4 linked regions of the Homo sapiens genome follow. The protein of the gene in region 3 purifies or fractionates together with the protein of the main gene of each other region. This does not show direct contact. Each region holds a gene or a part of one and is shown on either strand. Other genes may lie near its edges. The genes, in order: BBS4, BBS7, LZTFL1 and CEP250.

Region 1 (7,031 bases), on a different chromosome or scaffold from region 3:
AAATGGTATTTTGTCGAGTTTTTTTTTTTTTTTTTTTTTTTTTGAGATGGAGTCTCACTGTCACCTAGGCTGGAGTGCAGTGGCATGATCTTGGCTCATTGCAGCCTTTGTCTCCCAGGTTCAAGCAATTCTTCTGCCTCAGCCTCCCCAGTAGATGGGACTACAGATGAGTGTCACCATGCCCAGCTAATTTTTTGTATTTTTAGTAGAGATGGGGTTTCACCATATTGGCCAGGCTGGTCTCGAACTCCTGACCTTGTGATCTGCCCGCCTTGGCCTCCCAAAGTGCTGGGATTACAGGCGTGAGCCACCGTGCCCAGCCCTGAGTTTTATTTTTTAATTTCTCTCTTACTGCAAGGTTGATCATCATGTGTATATTTAAAAACCATTTGTATTTCCCTTTCTCTGTATCTTTGGTGACATACCATATGTGTTACAAACTTGCAGGCAGACAGTGGTAGTACTAACATGCAGAATGTATCCTTGGTGTCATCTTTTTTGGTATCCAGAGCTTTGTGACCCATCTAAGGTTTTTAATTTATACCCATGGCATTTATACCTATGGCAATGCACAGAACTAATTCATACTGGTATGACAAAGATTCATACCAGTTTTTTTTTTTCTTTTTTTAAGTGGAGTTTTGCTCTTATTGCCCAGGCTAGAGTGCAGTGGCGCAATCTCGGCTCACTGCAACCCCCGCTTTCCAGTTTCAAGCAATTCTCCTGCCTCAGCCTCCCAAGTCGCTGGGATTACAGGTGCCCGCCACCATGCCCAGCTAATTTTTTTTTTTTTTTTTGTATTTCTAGTAGAGGTGGAGTTTCACCATGTTGGTCAGGCTGGTCTCAAACTGCTGACCTCGTAATCCACCTGCCTCAGCCTCCCAAAGTGCTGGGATTACAGGCGTGAGCCACCGCACCCGGCCCATACCAGTTTTTTTTGACACCGCTGATCCGAAGGCAGATACCAGTATGAATCTTTTTTTTTTTGAGATGGAGTTTTGCTCTTGTCGCCAAGGGTGGAGTGCAATGGCGTGACCTCGGCTCACCACAACCTCCGCCTCCTGGGTTCAAGCGATTGTCCTGCCTCAGCCTCCTGAGTAGCTGGGATTACAGGCATGTGCCACCACGCCTGGCTAATTTTTTGTGTTTTTAGTAGAGATGGGGTTTTTCCATGTTGGTCAGGCTGGTCTCAAACTCCCGACCTCAGGTGATCTGCCCGCTTCGGCCACCCAAAGTGCTGGGATTACATGCGTGAGCCACCGCGCCTGGCCACCAGTATGAATCTTGAAAGGTTCTCTTTCTTTTTCATCTGTGATAATACTTGGAAATCTTATCACACTTTTCTTAGCTTGCCTAGTTAGATTTTAGACAGGGGTTGGCAAACTTTTTCTGTAATGGGCCAACAATATTTTAGGGTTTGTAGGCCACATACAGTCTCTACATCATATTTGTTATCTTATTTTTTATAACCCTTTAGAAATAAAAAAACCACTGTTAGCTTGAGAGCTGTACAAAAATATACAGGGCCTGTAAGCCCTGTAGTTTGCAAATCCCTGTTCTAGAAGAAGTAATCACAACAAGGGAGTTGAAATTTTAAGAAACTGAATGAACTAATACTTTACTAGGCATTATTAATACTCTAGGTTTTTTTACATATGATTCTTGTCCACGTCTGCTTTTTCATTACTATTTGTTTTCTTTTTTTTTTCAGACAGAGTCTCACTCTGTTGCCCAGGCTGGAGTGCAGTGGCGCTATCTTGGCTCACTGCAACCTCCGCCTCCTGGGTTCAAGCGATTCTCCTTCCTCAGCCTCCTGAGTAGCTGGGATTACAGACACGCACCACTACTGCCCGGCTAATTTTTGTATTTTTAGTAGAGATGGGGTTTCACCATATTGGTTAGGCTGATCTTGAACTCCTGACCTCATAATCTGCCTGCCTTGGTCTCCCAAAGTTTTGGGATTACAAGCATGAGCCACCGCACCTGGCCTGTCCATGTCCACTTTTTCTTAAAGACACCTGAAGAAACTTAACCACTGCTCAGAAGCATTTTTCTCCCTCTTTCAGGCTGTTATCAAAGAACAGCTTCAAGAGACTCAGGGATTGTGTGAATATGCTATCTATGTCCAAGGTAAGACACATACTTCTTGTCTTCTTGCTAGAGAAATACACTTTTCCTAGGTTCTTGAAAAAGATCAGGCAATTGAAGAAACAAGTTCAAGTACAGTCATGCACCACTTAACAATGGAGATATGTTCTAAGAAATGTGTTGTTAGGCAATTTTGTCATTGTGTGAACATTACATGGAGTGTACTTACACAAACATAGATGGATGATATAGTGTACTATACACATGATATAGTCTGTTGCTCCCAGGCTACAAACCTGTATGAGCAGGTGTTATACCGAATACTGTAGGCAGTTGTAAAACAGTGGTAAGTGTATCTAAACATAGAAAAGGTACTGTAAAAATATGGTATAAAAGATAAAAAATAGTATACCTGTATAGAGTACTTACCATGGATGGACTGGAAGTTGCTCTGGGTGAGTTAGTGGTGAGTGAATGTGAAGGTCTAGGACATTATTGTATACTAATGTAGACTTTATGTTGTATACTAATGTAGACTTTATAAACACTGTACACTTAGCCTACACTAAATTTATTTAAAAATATTTTTTCTACAATGATAAATTAACTTTAGCTTACTATAACTTTTTACTTTATAAACTTTAAAACTTTTTGGCTCTTTTGGGGTAATACTTAAAACACACAACAACATTGTACATTTGTACAAAAATAGTTTCTTTAGGTCCTTATTCTATAAGCTTTTTTCTTTTTCTTTCTTTTTTTTTTTTGGTAGAGAGACAGAGTCTCACTTTGTTGCCCAGGCTGGTCTTGAACTCCTGGGCTCAAGCAGTTCTCCTGCCTCAGCCTCTCAAAGTGCTGGGATTATAGGCATGAGCTACGACACCTGGCCCTTTATGCTATTCTTAAAACTTTTTATTTTTTTACTTTTAAACTTTTTTGTTAAAAACTACGATACACACACTACTACAGTGGTGGTACTAACATGTGGAATGTGTCCTTGCTGTCTTTTTTGGCATTCAGAGCTTTGTGACCCATCTAAGGTCTTTGTGACACACACACACACACACACACACACACACACACACGCACACGCACGCACGCACTGGTCTAGGCCTACACTGAGTCAAGATTATAAATATCACTGTCTTCCACCTCCTTATGGAAGGTCTTCAGTGGCAATAACATACATGGAGCTGTCATCTCCTATAACAATAGGAATACCTTCTGGAATACCTCCTGAAGGATCTGCCTGAGGCAGTTATTCTTTTTTTTAGTAAGTGGAAGGAGTACACTCTAAAATAAAGATTAAAATGTATAGCGTAGTAAATACATAAACCAGTAATGTAGTCATTTATTATCAAGTATTAAGTTCTATATATATGTAATTGTATATGCTGTACTTCTATGTGACTGGCAGCACAGTAGGTTTGTTTATACCAGCATCACTACAGATAGGTAAGTAATGCATTGCACTGTTTTGATTGCTATGACGTCACTGGGCAATAGGAATTTTTCCTCTTCATTATAATCTTAAGTGATCATCATCATTTATACAGCTGTCGACCAAAATGTCATTACAGGTGCATGAGTTTAAATGTTCCAGAAAGGTTTTATTCAGTATTAATCTTTTTATGGAATCTGAATATAATTACTGTGTTGGATTTGACTTCAGAAATGACTAGTAATGTTAAAAAATTGCTATGATTACCCATTTTTTAGTTTCTGGCTAGTGTTTTTTGGAATGGATGCTTAGGATTCCTGCCTAATGCAGTGATTTCAGGGCCAAAAGATGCTTTTGGAAGGATTGCTTGTAATCAAGCTAAAAGAGATGAAGAAGAGCTTGAGGATTTCTGTAAGGTGAATCAGGATGAGGGGAAGAAGCCTGGAAATAAACAAGATAAAGCAGAGCATAAATTCAGCTCATTAGAAACCAAAGATAAGGACCACTCACTTACTTTTTTTTTTTTTTTTTTTTTTTGAGACAGAGTCTTGCTCTGTTGCCCAGGCTGGAGTGCAGTGGTGCGATCCCAGCTCACTGCAACCTCTGCCTTCCAGGTTCAAGCGATCCTCCTGCCTCAGCCCCCCTATTAGCTGGGATTACAGGCACATGCCACCATGTCCAGCTAGTTTTTGTATTTTTAGTAGAGACAAGGTTTTGCCATATTGGCCAGGCTGGTCTCGAACTCCTGACCTCAGGTGATCCACCTGCCTTGGCCTACCAAAGTGCTGGGATTACAGGCATGAACCACTGCACCTGGCCCACTGACTTAAATTTTCCTCTTTAGTGGCATAAGTAGCATTCTTAGTTTTTCCAGGAACTTTCTTTTTGACTCTTGGGTGTAAATAAATGGTTTTGTTTACCATTCATTGCATTTGTAGTCTTCAGATTAACATATAATTTTCTGACATAATTGTTAAGATATTGACAAATTTAGGACATCATGGCAAAAAATGCTCTTATTCCCAGTGTCACAAGTATCAGACTTTCAGTGCCTGATAAATTCTTCTGGAAACATAGGCCTAGGAAAAACCTCTGGTTCTAATTGGTTGTTACACTGACAACTGAAGTCTTAAATGTTACTTTATCCTTTGCCAGAATCTCCATGTTGAATTTGAGGTATTGATTCCATTTGCCCCATTTGGGGGTTCGCTCTGAAAACTATCAGTTGGAAGTAAATTATGATAAATGAAGCATCTGATGGGGAAGCCCCAAAATGTTGTTAATGTGAAGAGTTTGTGTGATAATTTGCAAAGGAACTGATTATCTATGTGATGGATCCTGGGAGTAGAGAGAGAAGTAGGTAGGTTTGAGCTACCTTGCTAAAAGACAGTTGAGCTTGTCAGCAGTTTTGGTTGTTGTTTCAGCCTGTCCAAAGCCATATCTGATTGTTTTAAGGATACAGTTGTCCAAAGGATTTACTTGATGTGGTTTCCCAGTTTTCTCTTCTCCAATTTTTCTGACCCCAGGCTCCATTCTTCCCAGAACATGGTTTTACTTTTTTTTGTATTTTCTGTTTCTTGGCAGCATTGATATTTCGCCTAGAAGGAAATATCCAAGAATCCCTAGAACTCTTCCAGACATGTGCAGTTCTTAGTCCTCAGAGTGCTGATAACCTCAAGCAGGTGGCCAGATCTTTGTGAGTATTGGCAACCTGGAGGCCCTAGGGCACTCACAGAGAACAGTGTAAAATGCATTCCTAGGTCCAGCCTGCTGCTGGCAGCTGCATCAGCCTGATACACAAGTGGGGGAATGGTTTAATAGGTACAGTGGGATTCACTCTGAAGAGCATGGATTAAGTTTGAAATTTGAGAAAATGAGATAACTAGTGTTAAGGAACTAAGCATTTTAAACACTGTGCATTCTAGTTTGATGGGGGACCAATATTGTTTATCATGTAAATAGAGACACCTTGTACCCTAAGTCTTCTAAACTTATTGGCAATCCTTGGAATTTTTCTCATCTACTCTTCTAACACTTAGTATTTGTCACACAGTAAGTTTTTAGTAAGGACAGAGAGTTCCTGACTTCTGATGGTTCAACTTACATAATTTTTCAACTTTACAATGATGTAAAATTGTTATGTATTCAGTAGAAACTGTACTTCAAGTATCCATACAGCCATTCCGTTTTTCATTTTCAGTATAGTATTCAGTAAATTACATGAGATATTCAGCATTTTATTATAAAGTTGGCATTGTGTTAGATGGTTTTGCCTAACTGTCAGCAAATGTAGTTAAGAAAGTGGAGATAGGAACTCCATGGAACAGAGTAAGTGTTCTGAGCATGCTTAAGATAGGCTAGGCTATCTATGATGTCTGGTAGAGTAGATGTATTACATGCATTTTTGAATTACAGTGTTTTCAATTTACAATGGGTTTACTGGGATGTAACCCCATCATAAGTTGAGGAGCATCTCTATTTGTTGAGTGAATGTCCTAAAGATTCCTAGATGGAAAGAATCTCAAGTGTTTATAAACTACTAGGTACTCCCTTTTCAGTCCTTTGTTCCATGGAGTTCCTATCTCCCCTTTCTTAGCCACATTGCCATTCATACCTGTGTTGTTTTTGCATAGAGCTTGGTTTTCCCTGTTTCTCTCTAAACTCAGGATCCAATATCAAGGAAAGAGACTTAGTCTTGGAAGGAAAGGATGTGTCCCTAATGGGTGATGATAAATGATGGTAGTTACTGCTTAACATGGTATATCATTAGGCTTATTTCTTTTTTGGTCTGCATTTATAGTACATTGTAGAAGAAAAATTCCACAAGACTCTCACTAAAATTGGTATAGAATGAGACCAAGGCCTTGGAACAGCTGCCAGTGCAATCCCTACTAAGAGAGCTTCTGCTGTTAGTGTATAGCAGCTTCACTGACCAAACCAGCACAACCACCTCATAGAGAAAAGGCTTCTAGAATTCTCTGCTGGATGAAATATGATTAAAATGTGGGACTAGTAGGGTTAGTCTTCTAAGAATTTTGAGGTAATAATTATGGAAAATATATCTTTTACAGATTTCTTTTGGGAAAACATAAAGCTGCCATTGAAGTATATAATGAAGCAGCTAAACTCAACCAGAAAGATTGGGTAAGTAGAGAACTTTCAGTTCTTTCTTATTAGTAAACTTGCTAATGGTTCCATTTATCATCTGGCTGTCTTATTTCTGAATTCTTACATTCCAAAAATGTCTTGATTTTAACCTCATACTTAATTCATGATTTGTATAAGTATAGGATCAAAAACCATGTTTCCTCATAACTTTGCAGGCATTGCTGCATGATTTTCTAGCAGTTTGCTGACGAGCAGTCTCTTACCAGTCTGATTCTTGTTGATGACCCCTAGAAGCTTTGGGTATTTTTTTCGTCATTGGAATTCCACAGTATCAGCAATAGGCATCTAGTTGTGTTTCATGTCTTTTTCCCGTCCCCATCTGTGTGACATTCAA
Region 2 (7,031 bases), on a different chromosome or scaffold from region 3:
AACTTTTCTATCCCATCTTTGCCACTCTAGTAAAAACATTTAAGAAACCACTTGAAGAGACTGTTACTGAGAAACTCTCTATCTTTCTCACACTACTATCCATATAACTGTCCGAATGTAGAGTTATGCTATTAACACATTACTTTCAGTATTCCATAATTATCATTGGCCATGTCTATATACAAGTGTATTTCAAAAGTGTTACTATTCTTGTTAAACCATTTGAAATTACATATTTCCACTTATCATGGTTTAATTTTAATCTAATTTCACCAAGCCAATGTTTTACATCCCAAACATCAGGAGATGTGCTGTGCATTATACAAAACTTTGGGCTGAATCAGTTGTTTCTAGCCTAAGAGTCTGGCTGATTATATAACTTGGCTGCACTAGATTCAAAGGAAGAACTTAAAAAATAAAAATAAAACCTACTCCTGGTTATTTTGATTCGGCAGGTATGAGGTAGGACAAGGAATTGTTTAAGTGGCCCAAGGGATTCTTCTAAGTAGCAAATATAAGAAATAATGAATTAGATGAATTTTAAAGCCCTTTTCAGCTCCCTGTGATTCAAAAACTCAAATCTGAATTGCAAAATCTCACATATCAGGCAGCCATTTAGGGAGCTATATTTCACTTAGAGTCTTACCTGATATACCTGAAATTATACCCTATTGGTAATCACTAACTTTGACAGCCAGCCTTTTAACATAATGATGCTACCTGAAAACCAGAACTATCAAAAATAGCCAAGGAACATAAAGCTAAATATCTAGATTTATTTTCAATTTTTTTGATACCTTGATCATGAATCAAACTGAACCAAGTTGTCAAAAATGATTGTATAAATACTATAAAGTTCTTTAAAAAAATTTCAACAACCAATTTAATATTGATTGTAGGTCAAATTTAGTTTCTGACTAATAAAATACCTTTAGTTAATTTTATTTTCCAGAAAGCCTATTAAGATATGATACTTAGTTGCCTCACATCTATCCAAAATATTATAAATAAGTATGTAAAAATACAAAAGAGAACAAAAGACATACATAGCTTTAATGCTTTCAGTGAGGTTTGTTTCAAAGGAGAGGAACTGTTTTCCTCTTTTTGTGAAGCCTCTAATCTCAGATGCTGCAGCAATAAAAATTTTCTCCTGAGGTGTGTTGATAACCCCTCCCAGTTCCAGCCTTGCAATCTTCGGCCCGGGTAAAGTCTTGAACACTGCCTGAAAAAAATCATTCAGGAAAAAAGTACACAAATTACTTTATTGTGAGCATTTTTTCCTTTACAATAGAAAATGTTATGATGTTAAATTTGCAAAATATTATAGTTCCACTATATAGAAATAATTTTAGATAATAATCTATATACTTCAGCAGGTCTTCAGGTTTTTTGCTATACTTAACTTTTAAATATATATTCCCACACATATTTGAATGATGTCATTGAAATCTAAATCCTTGTAATTCAAAGTACAGTTCACTAAGCAGCAATGTTAGCATCACTAAATTTATTTAAAATGCAGCAGATCAACTGAATGAGAATCTGTATTTTAACAAGATTCCCCAGCTGGTTCCTATGCCTACTGAAGTTTTAGAGGCATTGGATTAACAATACTCCTACGAACAGGGAAGTCCATTTGGCAAATTCTTTAATGAGGTCCAATGAACATGTTTTTACACTTCAATCATCTTTTAAAACTAATCTTTCCTGGCTTCTTTACAATTTTTATAAATTTTAATAGTTAAAGGACTATAGAATTTACTGAAAATGTGAATGTATGACTTAATACCTATAATCATATATCTATTTAACTGAAAACAATATTCATTTCATTAATTTTTTTGTGGTTATTTTCCATTTTATTATTTGCACCAGCTTCTTCTCCTCCACTTCCTCCCCATGACTTTATATACAGAGAATAAGATATCTGGGAGAATATGAATAATGGAAACACTGAGTTTCTGGTAGTTTTTATTCTCTTCATCTTTCTGGAAATTCCATATAATATATAATGAATACTAGAATTCACATCTCAGACTCATCATTCTAAGTTTCTAATTATGATCTGTAAATATGATAATGTAATAGTAATAACTTCCTTGATTAGGTTAAATTAAGTGGAAAAGGTTGTGGGTTAGTTGCTTCCATGATTACATTATGCTACATAAGATTCTTTCTTAGCAGACTACAGAAATTTCCTGCTGGCTTTGATGAATTAGATTACCATGTTGTGAGAAGGACTGTAAGAGAACCACAGAGCAAGAAATTGCAGAGACCTCAAGGAATTGAGAGCAGCCCCTGGTTTACAGATGTTAATAAAGTGGGGACCTCAGTCCTATAATAGCAAGGAACTGAATTCTGCAAACAACCACATGAGCTTGGAATAAGACCCCACACTCTAGAAAGGAACACAGCTCAGCTGACATCTAAATTGCAGCTGTGTGAAACCTTGAGCACAAACTCCTGTGCTACAGAAACTGTTAGATAATAAATGTGTGTTGTGTTAAGGCCCTAAATTTGGGGTAATATATTACACAGCATAGAAAAGTAACCCACGACCACAGGATGCCAAAGGTGCCTTACAACTAGCTAGCAAATTACTTTTGTGCTACCCGCAGACTCATATCTCACATAACTACTTACCTCAGAACCCATTTTCCATTACCTGTATTTTAGGAAATTTTTAACCTAGTATTATTCAATAAATAGTGCATTCTCTTTTAGAAAACCATTTTTCCCCTTCACAAAGCTATACTTACTGCTGCTTCTCCTTTCTTCATGCCAAAGCACATAACTACCCCATCATGATCTCCAATAACCACCTGTAATAGATGGAAGATAATCTAAAATTACTATTATTAATATTATGACCTAATAATTATATACAGGGAAAGCAAGATTCTTAATTTATAAATACTGACTTAATAGAGATCAGAAAATCTAGGAAAGACACCCCCACAAAAAATAATCCTCAAAAGAACAAGAGCCAAAAGAGAAGGATATGGAGAGTCATTAGAAAAGTAATTGGCCATAGATTTTGTTCCTATAATGTTAATAGGACAACACAATATATTTTGTTTTGCTTTTTTTCAACTTTTATTGTAGGTTCTGGGAGTCCACATGCAGGTTGTTACGAAGGTATACTGCCAGACAACAGTTATGGACAGAAATGCCTACAAAGTAATTTTTTTTTCATAACTGGAGCATAAGAACATTTTAAGATTAACTTTTAAAACAGATTATCAAATAAAGTTGTGACTGACATATTTAATAATTTTAAACACCTTTTTTAAAAGAAAAATTTTAATGTATGAAAATGTACACAAAATATTATAATGAATTATCATGTGCCTATCACCTAGTTTCAACAATTACCAACATGTAGACAATGAATTGTTTTGAAATAAATATAGAGGGACATTTTAACACTTCTTCCTCAAAAGTAGATATCAAACAACCTTAGACCAGTTCCAGTACGTGGCCTGCTGGGTACCAGGCCACACAGCAGGAGGTGAGCAGCGGGAAAGTGATCATTTACAGACTGAGCTCCGCCTCCCGTCAGATCAGCAGCGTCATTAGATTCTCATAGAAGCACAAACCCTATTGTGAACTGCGCATGGTTGTATGCTCCTTATGAGAATCTAACTAATGCCTGATGATCTGAGGTAGAACACAGTTTCATCCCAAAACAATCCCAGCCCCATTGGTGGAAAAACTGTCTTCCACGAAACTGGTTCCTGGTGCTAAAAAACTCTGGGAGCTCTGATTTAAGAAACTACTACTTATCAAGTTTAGGCATAGTATCAAACAGAGAGTCACAATCATCTGAAAAAGCTATTTAAATACCCCTCCTTATTTCCAGCTATGTATCTGTGTAAGCTGGATTTTCTTCAAATATTTCAGCCAAAACAACATAGCACAGCAGATTGAATGCAGTAAACAAATATGAAAATCTATGTGTGTATGCTTATGCCAGGACATTAAACAAGTTGCAAAAAGTATAACATAATGACACTATACTCACTAAATTCTTTGTTTTGAAAAATAGTTATTTTTCATAAAGACATGTTATGTAAACATGTAATAATTTTTTTAAAATAAAATAGTTTAAGCATTTCTTAGTTTTCATTTTAATATAGTAAGTATTGATACATACAACTTACATAAACAAATGTTCTTTGGGATCCTCAATCATTTAATTGTGTAAAGGGGTGCTGAGACCAAAAATTTTGAGAAGTGCTAATCTAGTAGACTTAATACAGTAAATGACAATCAGAAATCTGTTGGTTTATCTTTTTTATTTTATTCATTTATTTTTTAATTGACAACAATTGTACATATTCGTGGGGTACATAGCAATGTTTCAATACATATAACATATACTGATCACACTGGGATAATTAGCATATCCATCATCTAAAATACTGATCATTTCTCTGGGTTAGGATCAGTCAATACCTTCTTTTTAGCTATTTGAAACTATATATTGTTAACTATAGTCATCCTATAGTGGTATAGACTACTTGAGTTTTTTCTTCCTATCTAGCTATAATTTTATATCCTTTAATAAATATCTCCCTATCCCTCCCTTCCCTCTACCCTTTGCAGCCTCTAGTATTCTCTGTCCTACTTTTTACTTTAACGTGACCAACTTTTTTTAGCTTCCACATATTAATGAGAACATGTGGTGTTCAACTTTCTGTTCCTGGCTTATTTCACTAAACATAATGTCCTCCAGTTCCATCCATGTTACTGCAAATGATAGGATTTCATTCTTCTCTCTCTTTTTTTTTTTTTTGAGACAGAGTTTTGCCCTTGTCGGCCAGGCTGGAGTGCAAAGGTGCCATCTCAGCTCACTGCAACCTCTGCCTCCTGGGTTCAAGCGATTCTCCCATGTCAGCCCCCCAAGTAGCTGGAATTACAGATGCCTGCCATCGTGCCTGGCTAATTTTTGTATTTTTAGTACAGATGGGGTTTCACCATGTTGGCCAGGCTGGTCTCCAACTGCTGACCTCAGGTGATCCGCCCGCCTCAGCCTCCCAAAGTGCTGGGATTACAGGCGTGAGTCACCATGCCTGGCCAGGATTTCATTATTTTTTATTGCTGAATAGTATTCCATTGTGTATATATACCACTTTTTTTTATACATTCATCTGTTGTTAAACACCCAGGCTGATTCCATATCTTGGCTATTGTGAACAGTGCTGCAATAAAACATGAGGCTGCAGTTGTCTCTTTGATATGATGATTTCCTTTCCTTTGGGTAAATTCCCAGCAGTGGGGTTGCTAAATCATATGGTCGCCCTATTTGTAGTTTTTGAAAAATCCTACATACTGTTCACTATAGTGGATGTACTATCCCACCAATGGCACAGAAGAGTTTCCTTTCTCCACATTCTTGCCAGTATTTGTTGTTTTTTGGTTTTTTGTTTTCTTGTCTTTTTGATAACAGCCATTCTAACTGGGGTAAGATGATACTTCATTGTGGTTTGATTTGCCATTTTCCTGATGATTAATGATGTTAAGTATTTTTTCATGTTTTTTTGGTCATTTGTATGTATTCTTCTGAGAAATGTTTAGATCATTTGCCCACTTTTTAATCAGATTGCTTGTTTGTTTGCTATTGGTATGTTTGAGTTCCTTGTATATTCTGGATATTAATTCCTTGTTGGATGAGTAGTTTGCAAATATTTTAAATCCCATTCTATAGATTGTCTTTTCACTCTTGTTGATTGTTTCCTTTCCTGTGTAGAAGCTTTTTGGTTTGATATGATCCCACTTGTTTATTTTTGCTTTTGTTGTTTGTGTTTTTGAGGTCTTATTCATTAACTATTTTCCCAGACCAATGTCCTAAAGCATTAACATTTAGGTCTTTTTTTGTTTTTTGTTTTGTTTTGTTTTGTTTTTTTGAGATGGAGTCTTCCTCTCCTGAGTAGCTGGGATTACAGGTGCCTGCCACAATGACAAGCTAATTTTTTTGTATTTCTAGTAGAGATAGGGTTTCACCATGTTGGCCAGGCTGGTCTTGAACTCCTGACCTCAAGTGATCCACTCGCCTTGGCCTCCCAAACTGCAGGGATTACAAGTGTGAGCCACCACACCTGGCCACATTTAGGTCTCTGATCCATTTTGTGTTCATTTTTATATGGGGTGAGAGGTGGGGGTCTTGGTTTCATCCTTCTGCATATGAATATTCAGTTTTCCCAGCACCATTTATTGAAGAGGCTGTCCTTTCCCCAGGGGCTGTTCTTGGCTCTTTTGTCAAAAATCAGTTGGTTGTAGATATGTGGATTAATTTCTGAGTTCTCTATTCCATTTTATGTTCTCTGTGTCTCTGTGTTTTTATGCCAGTATTATGCTGTTTTGGTTACTACAGCTTTGTAGTATATTTTGAGATCTGGTAGTGTAATGCCCCAGCTTTGTTCCTTTTACTCAGGATTGTTTTGGCTATTTGGGGTCTTTGTGGTTCCATACAAATTTTAAGATTTTTTTTCTCTTCCTGTGAAAAATGACATTGGTATTTCGATAGAGATTGCATTGAATCTGTAGATTGCTTTGGGTTGTATTGTTATTTTAACAAAATTAATTCTTCCAATCCATGAACATGGGATGTTTTTCCATTTGTTGGTATCCTCTTTAATTTCTTTCATCAGTGTTTTATAGTTTTTTTTATAGAGGTCTTTCATTTCCTTGGTTAATTTATTCCTAAGTATTTTATCTTTTATCTATTATAATTGGGATTGTGTTCTTGATTTCTTTTTCAGCTAGTTTGTTGTGTATAGAAACACTACTAATTTCAGTATATTAATTTTGTATCCTGCAACTTTACTGAATTCATTTGTCAGTTCTAAGAGTTTTTTGGTAGAGTCTTTAGGTTTTTCTATATATAGGATCATGTCATCGGCAAACAGAGATAATTTGACTCTCCTTTCCAATCTGGATGCACTTTATTTCTTTTTCTTGTATAATTGCTCTGGCTAGGACTTCTAGTACTATGTGTAATTGTTGATTCATCTTGCTAAAATGTTTAT
Region 3 (8,031 bases):
GTCTCGCTCTTTCACCCAGGCTGGAGTGCAGTGGCGCAATCTCGGCTCACTGCAAGTTCCGCCTCCTGGGTTCATGCCATTCTCCTGCCTCAGGCTCCCGAGTAGCTGGGACCACAGGCGCCCACCACCACGCCTGACTCATTACTTGTATTTTTAGTAGAGACGGGGTTTCACCGTGTCAGCCAGGATGGTCTCGATCTCCTGACCTCGTGATCCACCTGCCTCGGCCTCCCAAAGTGCTGGGATTACAGAGGTGAGCCACCACGCCCGGCCCAGATTCTTAATAATTATTCACTGTCTATAGTATTACATTTACACTCTTTGCTCTCCCAAAACCTCCCAAACTCTCTTACCCTGTTTCCCAGGATTCTACTAAATGAACACTCTACTTTAGCCACACTAGTCTGCTCATCAGTCCTGAAACATGACTTAAAATTTCCTGCCTTGACTTTCACTCATGTTACTCTGATCCTAAAGTATCTCTCCATTCCTATTTGAGAATCTGAATCCTACCCAGTGGTATGATGGTAAATATTTAACAGCAGGTTTTCTAGGTAGGGGGGCCTGATTTGTAGCACTGCTGATTTCCATGGCATAAATACTTCCATCATGGCTGATTTCAAGCCACCAATATAATGTCACTGAATGAAGAGGTAAGAAGAAATGCATACAATTGGATCTCACCAGCCAGTACACACATGCTCCACCACATCACTGAATTCCTACCCACCCTTCATGGCCTAACCTGTTTCACCTACTCTGTGCCATCTCCCAATATGCCCTCAGTAACTCTATAGGTATGCCTTCCTCCAAAACCTAGCATATATAATCTCTGCTACTTCTTTGGTACCGTCACAGGCTGATTACTACCTCGTATTATTGATTATCTTTTTTTTCAGGTCTTGCTCTTCCAAGTAGATTGTAAACTCTATGAGGGCATGAACCATTTCTTATAATGCACAACACCTAGCATAGTGCCTTGTGCCAGCAGGTGGCCAATTCCTATCTGTTCATTCCTTTCCCTCCTTTCAAGGAAAGTTAAGACTGTCCCAGGACCAAGAAGGAAAAATTACTCAAACTGAGAAGGGTAAATGACAGAAAAGTTCCTTTAAAATGGATTGGAATGAAGAAAGGGGGTAAAAGTGGACAGCTGAGTTCAAAAGGAAAAATAGCATCAGCCTAGGAAACGGCTATTCACAAACCTTTACTTCCACACATATACTATATGTATCTATGTCAAATCATTAGAGAGGAAATGGAATAGGTAGATATGTGGTATAATAGACAAAGCACTGGATTAGAAACCAGGTTTAGGTCTAGCTATGCAACTATCTACCTTGGTAACAGTCTGTTACCAAGTCACTTAACCCCAATGACATTAGTTTTACTATCTGCTAAATGAGAGGTAGATATGATGATCAGTCCTAAAATGGTTAGAAACAATGGGAGGTATCCAAGTGGGGAAGTCAGAATTTGTTTGAATTTTATTGTAGAAATATTCCGTTAAAATAATAATAAAAAGAGCTGAAAACATACAGCAAGAAATCCTGCCAGAGCATTGCCAAGCTAGTGTCTTGAAATTGTACCACAAATTGTGTATGTGTGTTTAGGGGGAAGGGGATAGAAGAGAAATGGGTAAGGTACCAGAAAGGGTTCCCTGTTCTTAACCATGCCCACAAATCCATATACAATTTAAGATAAGTACAAGGAGGAAACTGTAATGATAAAAATGAGCACAGTTTAATAATACCTATCAGATACTGAATGCTTAATATTTTCACAGGTACTGCACTGTTTACACGCATTATCTTACTTATCATATTAACAGTCTTGTGTAGTTATTATCTGCAATTTACTAATGAAGAACCTGAGCCTGATTCCAAAGCCTCAGTTGTTAACTGATGGAAAGGAATGACAGAAGATAGAACAGGAAGAGATACCAATTTTTTTGTGATTTGTTTTCAACGTGTTCTCCTGATATTTTAGGGAAATCAAGAGAATGAGTGGAGAGGCTCTAAACTCAAGAAGGGGAGGGAGCAATCTGTTTAGCTCACAGGTGTCTTCTCAGCTCCCAGACAGCGCTTGGAACACAGTGTGGACTAAATAGAAATTCTGGTTGCTGAAGTATTTCAGTAGCTATTTCAGGTGGTGCTCTCAACCCTGGTTTCATCCGTTTTCCTGAACATTTCAGTGCTGTGCACTGTTCTAAGTATGACTGGTATTTAAGATGGCATGCTATATTCGCTGGAGGGATTAATGATATTTTTTGAGCAAGCCAAAACAAAGGAAATGTCACCCAAATTCCTCAGCTGTAATACGGGGTGCTGGGATTCTTAAAGTCACCTCCACATCAGAAAGTTGGATTTCAATCACACAGAAAGCTGGATTCGTTCTCCCTGCTCCTCTGGTTACCGCGCGCGCGCGTGTGTCTGTGTAAACCTTAGAGCTTCCTGAAACTGAGTGAGAACCCTGCGTATGTGTTAATGTGTGTGTGTGCGTAAACTTGGAGCTTCTTGAAATAGAGTTAAGAACCCTGCCGTGCACCTTAGGCCGGCAGCAGTTTCCTCTATCTCTCCTCACCTGCCACCTAAGAGTTGTGCCTTGGCTCCAGCCCCCGCAGGCAGGAGAGAAACGAAGCGATGCGGCGGAGCTGGGCTGCTGGGAAAAGGCTTCACCCAGGATTACCCCAGAAGGGCTTGGGCTGCGGTTAACCGAATCTCTCGCGCCCGGCGCAGCTCCCCTTCTCAGGGAGGCTGAGGTGCGGCCAGACCCAACGAGGCCACGTAATCATTCCGGGCCCACCCGCTCAGTGTCTCCAGCCCCGGCCGCGCTCTCTCCTGTGCGCGGTGCGGCGCCTGAGGGTCGGTTACTCACCATGGCGGCAGGCAGCGGCGGCAGCCTAAAGGAACGGGAGAGGCCAGGCGGTGCCCCGCCAAGCCTGGGATCGCCGAGGGTAGTTGGACCACAGAAAATGGGGAAGGAGGGTAGGTTGTTTAGAAGCCTCTGGTTGCTAACGGAAACCGAGGCACGTGGACTGCAATTATGCATTTTCATTGGTCCTCAGGATCACGCGACAGGAAGTATTGCGTAACCGGTTGACTGCCACATGCGCATTGGCTTCCAGGGCCGGAAGTCCCACCTTTTTGTGCCAGTTCACTTTTGGGAGCTGACTGCAGTTGCAGAAGGTAGCGGGAGGGTTGGGCTGCCTGGAGTTGCGTGTGGCCACCAACGCGCTTCGCGCCTCGTGGCGTCCGCTTATGGATTGTTGGGAAGTTCTTGTCCAGAACTTCCTGTGGCATAGGTGACCCCAAGGATGAATGGACATCCCAGACCTTTCAATGGTCTCATAGGGCGCGGCCCAGACATTTTTTTTTTTCAGGAGTTCCTACCTGAGCATCAGGGTGGCTGAGACAGGCCAACAACACCAATGCCAGCAGGTTCTCAAATAGAGCTTCAAACGACCCCTCCCCATGACTCCGCCCATTATTATTACTGTGTTGTTATTATCTTCTCTTATATTTCCAGCTAAAAGTCTCTAGCAACATTTTTCCATTTAAAAAAAATGCAAAAAGCATGGGTTTTCTCCGAGAGCAGTGAATTTCAAAAGGTTCCATATGCCTGGAACTACTATGGAAGCTTGTTGAACAAATTCCTGGGCCTTATCTCCAGAAATTCTGATTCACAAGTCTAGCTTGGGTCCTTGGGATCTGCACTTTTTAACCGATGTTCCAGGAGTGATCACAGATCAGGACCACTCTTAGAAACACTGGCTTGGAAGGACAAGTGTAGGATGAGATCGATTATTGCAAATACCAGGGACTCAGAGTCCTTCACTCACATGATACAGAGGTGATGTGCAGGCATTTGCCCACAGAAGGATCTCAAGCCTTGGGTCAAGAACAGTAAACAAGGTTCTCCTGTGTGTCACCTGGAGCATTCCAATGCACGGAATGATGGCCTGAAGGCAGTGGCGTGGGTATGCCCAACTTCAGCTTTGGCTAGGCTCCCTACCCTTGGCACTGCAATGGCATTTGGGCAGGATCCCTGTCTTCTTGAAAGATTCCTAAGGGCAGATTCTCTCAACCCTGAATATTAACCCCTTCCAAGCTCAGTTAAACTTCCCCTTTACCATCCCACCTCCCCATTTCTGTTTAGTGAGTGTTGTTGAATTTGGTTGCCATTATTTAGTGCCTACTATGAGCTATTAATAGACACATTCCATTCCAGTAGTTAATCCTCATAATACGTGGTTCTTTCCTCTGTAGACATTCGTTGTGTTCACATAGTGAGAGGGTCACTTTACAAGGTGTTGTGGGTGCGAGATGAAGTTCATAAAAACTTTTATGACTGATCAGTAAACAAAGTTGGTCATCAGCTTGCACTGCTGAAAAGCTCGTTTATTTTCTCCCAGGCCAAATCTTGTGATTGCGAAGTGTTATCAATTCAAGGGAATGAAAGGAGCGTGTGTATAATGCAAATATTACATTTGTGGCTTGGGGATTTTAAAATTTGTTCTGCAAAACTCCATCAGCTAGTTATTGTAATTTAAAATTCTGCTTTAATCTAAAATCTTCTATACCAAGGAGGTTAATCACCATTAGCCAATCTACCCAACAGAGTTGAGTGTTGTTACATAAGCTGTCTAAATAGTGTCAGCAAATCTGAACATGAATTTTAGTCTCAAAAGTGATGAATTTGGCTCATGAAAAGGCTGAACTTGTACTTCAGGTTGTTTACTAGTGCGGGTTGGTCACCAAAGCAAACAATTCGAGCCGTGAGGGAGAACAGCTCCATCCTACTTTACTAGTGATCTTCTTAGGCTCTGTTTTTATTTATTTTAATTGCTGTGACAGTTTTTTAAAATGTGTGTATGTGTGAGTGTATGTGTGTGTGTAAATTTGGAGGGAGGCACACAAGTCCATTTTTTACCTTTTAGCAGAGTTCAACATAAATAAAATGAAGATAAATTCTTTTTATATTATTATGAAATGAGACTTATGACTTTATAAGTTCCCAGTCATCATACTAAGACCACCAGTTTCAGGGTGTTTGCAACCTAGACTTGGCAAAAGGAGGAATGGAAAGCTGATCATGGCCTCCTCAGGGATGCCAACAGATTCACTCATTCTGCCACTATTTACAGAACCCCTGTTGTGTGCAAGGTTCTGTGGCCATGATAGTGAGTCTGAGGAAAAAATCTGAGGGGAAAATCTGAGGGAAGAAGTGGAGGGACTCAGAAAGCCCCAGCTGCCCCTGCACTATAAATTTTGGGGGGATGCAGGGGGACTAAGGTGAGGCTTTACTTAAGTAGAAAGAGGAAATGAAGAAAATGATTAAGTAAAAAAAAAATAGGTGATACACAGAAAATGTAAAAATCTGAAAGGTTATATGGGAAAGAGAAAAGTTTGATAAATATTGAACTGGTAGTAGGTGGAAAATAGGGGAAATTATTTTAGGACATTATTCTTAAGAAGACAGGATCTTTGCAGCATGGCTTCTTGCATGAAGTTCTACCATACAAGTTCTCTTCAACTTCCCCATCTTGCCCCACCTTGGCTGCTGAGAAAGTAGCCAAGACCTTATAGAAGAGAAGGGCCCAGATTACAGGGCTCTTTACAGGAGATATGCATTTGAGTAGGCCTGAAGTAGGCAAGAGGCTATTTTCAGTTGCTTTCAAAACACCCTAGTGACCAGCAGGGTATTGGAGAGTGCTGACAAACTAGATTAGTGAAATCACTATCACATGCATTAAAGCAGGTCAAGCAAGGAAGTGGTTCACCATAAAATACAACTCCCTCTAAGAATGTGTGGATGTTGGCAATTACTTAGCCCAAATGATAGATTAGTTTCACTGATAATCTCAATGCATTAACAACACCCCAAAGGGAACAAACACCGAAACCATCAAAATGAGAAGTCTACCTCAAAAAATTTTAAGAATTGGTTGTGGGGAATACCTTCTTGTAAAGTACAAGAAAAATTGATTGTAAAGATGATGATACGCACCAGCTCCTCTTTCCATACTCCCTTATGCATATACATTTCAGTTAAACCCACAAGCTCAGTCTGTATATTCAGCAGCTGTTAATGGAAATCTGGATACTCGCAAGACACAATGGGGAAGGGAATAATGAACAAGATGGGATTGGTCTCTTTCAAAAATGGCCTTATAATCAAGTGAAGGGAGAATTCAAGCTTGCAGAATAATTTCAAAGTAGACAGTAAGTAGTAGGGTAGTTCAGAGAGGGTGCGAGATAGTTCACTTCTGTTGAGGCTGGAGAGGAGAGATTCAGAAAAGTCTTCCAGAAGGCAGTGGAATTTGGGCTAGGTTTTAACAGGAGTGTGGAAAAGTTGGGGATGAGTGTGATGATTGTGAAATTGAGAGTTGTCTTGGACAGGGAACCAGAATTTTCATCAGGTGCTGCAGTAGAAGTGTCCAGAGATGTACATTTATTATTATTACAAGTGGCAAACTACAAAAAGAGATATACTGACAGCTTATACAAGGATGGAGCACCTTTAAGAGTGTCTTATTCAGAAATGTGGGTCTTCCTAGATCTGTGGTCTTCACTAAATGTTTCCATGGACTTCTGGCAATGTAAGGGTGTTCACCAATTGCATTTCATCATAGAAAATGTAAACAAAAAATTAAATTTGCTCAGAAAGTTTTGCCTACAAAGCTGGGGCTGTGTAGTCCTATTGGAAGAGCTGAATAGCTGTGTCATGAATAGCTGTGTTCATGACTGGAAGTTTTCTCAATGGGATGGATAAATAAAATATGAAAAATAAAGTGAACTCAAACGGAAATGTCATTTTTAGCCAGCTTATATGAGTTTGTCTTCCCAACTACTATGTTGCAAGCTCCTTGAAGGAAGAAATATTTATTATATAATAACATAGTATGGCTGGGCTATAAGAAGCTCTGAGCTATGCTTGCAGAATTAAATTGGAGATAAACAGGAACATCTCAACAAACATTTGTGAGTTCCTACTGGGTTCCAGATACTGTGTTTGTGGGTTGCTTTTGGCCCTGGACATGCCCTCTCTTGGAAAGCATATCATAAGGCAGCAGACATATTCAGCTATCCCTGTTTCCCATGTTAAATGTAACTTTGAGGTGATTTATATAACTTTTAGGAGTTTTTGAGAATGAATTATTTAGTTCTCATGACTTAACCCTTATGTTTTTATATAACTACTGTTTGAGTTCTACTTTGACTTAATGCTACACTTTGAAGACATTCCATAAAACAATTACTAATTTATATTTTGTGGTTTCTTTTAATATTTTGAGCCCAAGCATTTACAGTTGCTCCTTGAACAACACAAGGGATAATGGTGCTGACCCCATGCACAGTCAAAAATCCACATATAACTTTTGACTCCCCCAAAACTGAACTACTAATAGACTGCTGTTGACTGGAAGCCTTACCAATAACATAAATAGTTCATGAGCATACATTATGCATTATATGTATTATATACTATATTATTTCCATAAAGTAAGCTAGAGAAAAGAAAATACTAGAAAATCATAAGGAAGAGAAAATATATTTACTATTCATTAAGTGGAAGTGGATAATATAAAAGTCTTCATTTTGAATAGGTTGAGGAGGAGGAGGAAGAGGAGAGGTTGGTCTTGCTGTCTCGGGTGGCAGAGGAGAAAGAGTTGGAGGAGGTGGAAGGGGAGTCAGGAGAGAAAGGCACACTCGGTGTAACTTTATGGAAATGCATAATTTCTGTCTGACTTTTTCTTTTTTGTTTATCTAAAAATGTTTCTACGTGGTACCAGTCCTTCTTCCGCCATTTGCATGTTTCAGTGCCTGCATAATAGAAGGGTCCATGTCATAAAAGAAGTCAAAATCAGTCTTGAATAATTGAAACCATTCTTCCAGATTGTCTAATGTCAATGTGTTTTCTGGCACTACTTCTACATCTTTCTCATTATTTGGCACTGGTTCGGAAGCACTTATCTCCATCAACTTGTGTTCAGCTAATTCCTCTGGTGTGGTGTCTATTAGCTCTTGAATC
Region 4 (5,214 bases), on a different chromosome or scaffold from region 3:
CTTTGCTGCTCTGCTTCCCACATGGGACTGCCAGCACCCTGAAGGCAGAAAAACTGAATGTACCCGTTAAAGGAGGAGAAGCTGGTGGTGTATGTTGAGATAAGGAGGGTGGGGAGTGTACAGTTACAGGCTGCACAGGGAGGGCAAGATCAATGTTGACACCAAAGTGCCAAAGGCTGTCTGCGCCAGGTCTGGGGCCCCCACTGGTCATACCGCCTGATAAAACCATTGCAGTCCACACTAGGTCTGGAGGCTTCGACACCCACAGCATGTGGGTGTTCTCATGCAGGCCATGAGTATTCGGGGTGCTTTAAGTGCAGGGGAGTTCTGTTGTCCACGTTATTCTTAAAGCCCAGAATAGGCCCTGTTTTATTCTACAGAGATAGGAAGGCACTGGGGCTCACAGAGTGGTGCTGCTTCCCACCCTCACCCTTCTGCCCCCACCTGAGCACAGTGTGGTGCTCAGTGATGGTTATCCTATATTCCAAATACGCATGGCCCAGGACTGGCAGAGTCGGAGCTCGGGGTCTAGCTGTGACCTGGGGATCGGTTGGAGTAGCTTCTTGACCAGCCGGAATTGGGTTAGGTGTCCTAGCATTGGTGCCTATGGAGAAGAACACAGACTGTTTATCACTCACCCCTGGTTCCAGTACCAAGGAAAGGCTGGAGCCATTGCAACTGGAGGCCCAGCGGAGGAAGGGATCAAGAAGAGGATGCAGCCCAGAGCCCAGGACCGAGCATCCACCGGCCTCTGGAGATGGCGTGGTCTCCAGTTGCATCGGGGCTTCAGGGCCCATCTGAAGTGCTGATCAAACCAGGCAGACACACCATGCTGGTGAAGGCAGGCTTTGTAGATGCGGGGCTGAATTGAGCAGCCACAGAACCTCTGCAGCTCTGGGGCCAGTGGCAGAACTTCTAGAAGTACCTGTGGGGTGGGAAACCCCAGCCACAAAAGCAGTGAGCTGACTTCCAGGCCTGAGGCTTTGCCTGCAGGCCTCATCTCAGCCCATGGGACAGATTCCTGGTTTTTTTAGTTTGGCCTTGGGGTAGATGATACCTTCAGCTGTCCACCCTGCAATACCTCACCTCCTGCCTTCTGACCCAGTACTCTGCAGAGCGGGGGAATGGGGCCAGGGGACAGGGGCAGGGAAGAGGAAGAAGCAAGAGCTGCCAGTGTGCTCCAAACCAAGAGAGCCCTCCACATGATTCTGGGCACAGCTGAGGAGGAGTGCAAGCTCAACTCTGCTCACCACACTTAAGAAGCAGGCAAGGGAGGATGAAGGGCAAAAACATGGGGTCCTGAGGCCCTTTTACTCCCTCTACCCTGCTGGAGGTGAGGATGAGAGGTGAGACTTCGTTGGACTGTGCTCCTGGCCAGTTGATCTCACCCAACTCATTACATCAGTAGCCTGGTCACAGGGTGGACACTCTGACCTCTTCTTAGCCTTTCATTGGCAATACTACCAGCTCTATATATGCCCTTATAGGGCCTGAACCTTGGCTCAGGTGGATGGGCTTGGAGGTAAAATAATTGAATGGGTCAGGGGTAGGAGGAGAGATGAGTCTCTGCCAAGGCTGTGTGATGTGTCATCTGAGAGAGTGGGTAACCCCTATTCCCAGCACATGGCCATTTATTTAGAGCCAGGGAGGGGGACGAGAATTCATATTCAAATGTGATTCTTTCTTAATTACTACCAGTTGTTCAGGTGAGGGAATCAGGGAAGGCCAGATTAATAATCCACACATTGCCCTTGCACCTCCTGTCTTGGTTTCCTATCAAAACCTCTCCCGTATCTATGAACATTCCAGCCCTGCAGGTCAGATTGCTGGCCAGGAGTAGTCTCACATTCTAGCTGACTGATGGCCTCGGCTTCTGCTGTTGTATGTGGTTTGATGATTCATGCTGGAGCCTTTGGCTATAACTCTCTTCCCTGTATAAGGGCCATCTGAAGTTTGTCTGCCTGACTCCATTACCTGGTGAATGAGATTGGCTAGCTGCTGCTCCTGCCCCAGCTATTCAGTCATTTGGCAAATACTCATTTAAACAAAGCTCCACAGGGATCTCTGAGAAGGAGCTCACCTCTAGGCACACAGAACCTGGACACAGATGAAAGTTTGCAGAATGACCCAGTTGTGCAGAAGAGACCCACTGGCTGCTCTCAGTGAGGCCAGGGAGAGTCAAACAGAGCATCTTGGACAAAGAGAGGGCTTGAAGGCCCTTTCAAAGTGTCAAGCCAGTTGGATGCACGGGTTGTGTGGAGTCCAGGGGTACATCCAGAAGCAATGGCAGGTGTTATCCATTCATTCAGGTTAGACCTCTGAGCAGACGGCAGAAACGTCAGCCACAGGTGAGCATAAGCTCAAACCCCCCCATTGAAGGCTACATTCTTGTCCCACAGGGCAGAGCACATGGCAAGTGGCATGCTGACTCAGACACCGGGCACTGAGAAAAGTGGGAAGCCATGGTCACAGACTCTACATTCCCCTCTCCTGTTGGCCTCCATCCCTTCCTCAACCGTCCGCAGAACACCTCCTTCCAGCACCTTAGCTCCTGCCTCCCTCTGGACCTATTCAGTCCTCAAGGGTGCCCTGCTAAAGGCTGGGCTGAAAGCTAAGAGGAGAGGTGGCATTCAATGTGTCCTGTGTCCTCCCTGGGGTTGATTAAGGGGTCGATGCCCAATAGAGTCCTTCATCTTGGTGTTCAGCCCAGGGTCCAGCTGCCAAGGGAAGGCTTGGCAATCAAGGGTGATGGAGATAAGAATGAAAAGGGGCACCACCCTGTGCCAAAGCTGGCATGTTGTATATCTGAGAGAGGAGCTGCCTATTCACAGTGTAGGGTTGTCAAGCTGGAGGCAGGGAGAGAAAAGCAAGAGCTTTTTGGTTCCTCTTGAGGATAGAATCTATAGGAAAATGTAAGAGGGTTAAAAATAAATTTCCCATGCATCCAAACTTTTTTCTTTGGTAGACTTTCTTGTCATCTATTTAAAATGAAACAAGTGCATGTACGTGGTTAAGACATTTTAGCTAGGAATGATGGTGCGTGCCTGTAGTCCCAGCTACTTGGGAGGCTGAGGCAGGAGGATCGCTTGAACCTGGAAGGTCAAGGCTGCAGTGAGCCGAGATCATACCACTGCACTCCAGCCTGAGTGATAAAAGTGAGACCCTGTCTCAAAAAAAAAAAAAAAATTAAAGAAGTTAAACAGTGCCGGGCTTGGGGGCTCACGCCTGTAATCCCAGCACTTTGGGAGGCCCAGGCAGGCAGATTGCTTGGGCTCAGGAATTCAAGACCATCCTAAGCGAAAAAATATAAAAATTAGCTCAGTGTGATGATGTGCCTGTAGTCCCAGCTACTCGGGAGGCTGAGGTGGGAGGATCACCTGAGCCCAGGGAGGTCAAGGTTGCAGTGAACCATGATCATGTCACTGCACTCACTCCAGCCTGGGCAACAGAGCAAGACTGTCTCAAAAAAAAAAAAAAAGGAAATTAAATAAAAAGAAGATAGCAGTTTCCCACCTCATTCTTCTCAAACTCCTCTTCAGAGGCAGCGGGTTTTGTTTTTTTTTTAACTATGTTTTTCTACTGGCTCACTTTATTCCTCTAAAATAGTAACTTGTCTATGTGGTGCCATAACGGGTCCAGTATCTGGACACGAGGCCGCACTACCTACACCTTTGGGGATTCTCGGATCCTGACTCTGAGCTACCTCATTCCTAGACACCTGGTGCACCACAATGTGTCAGGGATGTCGGTTTATGTGGGATATTTGCATTTTGTTAGGTTGTGTGTGGTAGTTGAGCAGCCAAGGGGGTAGCATGCGGTGGATATTTGTTTTAGATACACAGTAACTGGAAACTCATTTACTGAGGCTATTTGGTTACCCTGAACTACTGTTTCTACCAAAAAGGCAGGATAAATGCTCCCTCAACACACACCTTTAATTACCAATTTTCAGAGTAAGGGGTTGAGGTAATAGCCACCGCCAGTTTTCCCTTTCTCTTTGAGTATCATTATGAGCTCAAAGTTTTTTATATATTCACTATGATTCAATCATGACAGTTGCTATTTTTGATGCTCAAATTGCCGCAAATCTAATGTCCAAGTGTTCTTGTACTTGTCTAGGCCTAGAATCTTTTAGTGAAGAAAAAGTATTTAGAAGACAAAAATCAGGCTGAGTGCAGTGGCTCACGCCTGTAATCCTAGCACTTGTGGGAGGCTGAGGCAGGCGGATTGCCTGAGCTCAGGAGTTGGAGACCAGCCTGGGCAACATGGTGAAACCCCGTCTCTACTAAAATACAAAAAATTAGCCGGGGGTGGCGGTGTGCACCTTGTAGTCCCAGCTACTCAGGAGGCTGAGGCAGGAGAATTGCTTGAACCCAGGAGGCAGAGGTTGCAGTGAGCTGAGATCGCGTCACTGCACTCCAGCCTGGGTGGCAGAGCAAGACTCCGTCTCAAAAAAAAAAAAAATACGAAAAACAAAAAACATAATCTGGATTGCAGGGCTGATCGTTGCTAATGGAGTGTTATGGCTGTTCAGATGACAGAGGGAGAAAATGTACTTTGTAAACTGTTAGTTCAATGAGGTTATGATTGCACAACAATGTGAACATACTTAATGCCACTGAACTTTATTGCCATTGATAACTTTTAAATGGTAAATTTTGTGTATTATTTTGTCACAATAAAAAGTTTGAAAATCGAGTTCATAATATTTCCAGTTTGGGCCGACCACGGTGGCTCATGCCTGTAATCGCAGCACTTTGGGAGGCTGAGGTGGGTGGATCACAAGGTCAGGAGTTCGAGACCAGCCTGACCAACATGGTGAATCCCTGTCTGTACTAAAAATACAAAAATTAGCCGGGCGTGGTGGTGCGCGCCTGTAATCTCAGCTACTCAGGAGGTTGAAACAGGAGAATCACTTGAACTCGGGAGGCGGAGGTTGCAGTGAGCCGAGATCGCGCCACTGCACTCCAGCCTGGGCGACAGAGTGACACTGTCTCAAAAAAAAAAAAAAAAAAAAAAAAAATTCCAGATTGAATTTAATGTCACAGAGTTTTTAGCCTGTCCACCTGCCCAATTTTGTATTGTTTCTTTTTTTTTTTTTTTTTTTTGAGATGAAGTCTCACTTTGTCACCTAGGCTGGAGTACAATAGTGCGATCTTAGCTCACTGCAACCTCTGCCTCCCAGACTCAAGTGATTCTCCTACTTCAGCCTCC

What was found.
Region 1: the proteins of LZTFL1 (region 3) and BBS4 purify together in Homo sapiens (affinity purification with mass spectrometry; 3 studies listed by BioGRID and IntAct, with this or other methods). This does not show direct contact.
Region 2: the proteins of LZTFL1 (region 3) and BBS7 purify together in Homo sapiens (affinity purification with mass spectrometry; 5 studies listed by BioGRID and IntAct, with this or other methods). This does not show direct contact.
Region 4: the proteins of LZTFL1 (region 3) and CEP250 purify together in Homo sapiens (affinity purification with mass spectrometry; 3 studies listed by BioGRID and IntAct, with this or other methods). This does not show direct contact.

What each region holds. Positions count from the first base shown.
Region 1 is NC_000015.10:72,710,178-72,717,208, forward strand, and holds part of BBS4 (BBSome complex member BBS4), read left to right. Parts: intron 1-2,066; coding exon 2,067-2,130; intron 2,131-5,113; coding exon 5,114-5,225; intron 5,226-6,600; coding exon 6,601-6,673; intron 6,674-7,031.
Region 2 is NC_000004.12:121,860,458-121,867,488, forward strand, and holds part of BBS7 (BBSome complex member BBS7), read right to left. Parts: intron 2,823-7,031; coding exon 2,760-2,822; intron 1,223-2,759; coding exon 1,047-1,222; intron 1-1,046.
Region 3 is NC_000003.12:45,839,115-45,847,145, forward strand, and holds the start of LZTFL1 (leucine zipper transcription factor-like protein 1), read right to left. Parts: upstream 2,878-8,031; coding exon 2,875-2,877; exon of another isoform or gene 2,581-2,874; intron 1-2,580. UniProt on the Homo sapiens protein: Regulates ciliary localization of the BBSome complex. Together with the BBSome complex, controls SMO ciliary trafficking and contributes to the sonic hedgehog (SHH) pathway regulation. May play a role in neurite outgrowth. May have tumor suppressor function.
Region 4 is NC_000020.11:35,514,583-35,519,796, forward strand, and holds the end of CEP250 (centrosome-associated protein CEP250), read left to right. Parts: 3' UTR 1-2,399; coding exon of another isoform or gene 2,400-2,447; 3' UTR 2,448-4,698; downstream 4,699-5,214. UniProt on the Homo sapiens protein: Plays an important role in centrosome cohesion during interphase. Recruits CCDC102B to the proximal ends of centrioles. Maintains centrosome cohesion by forming intercentriolar linkages.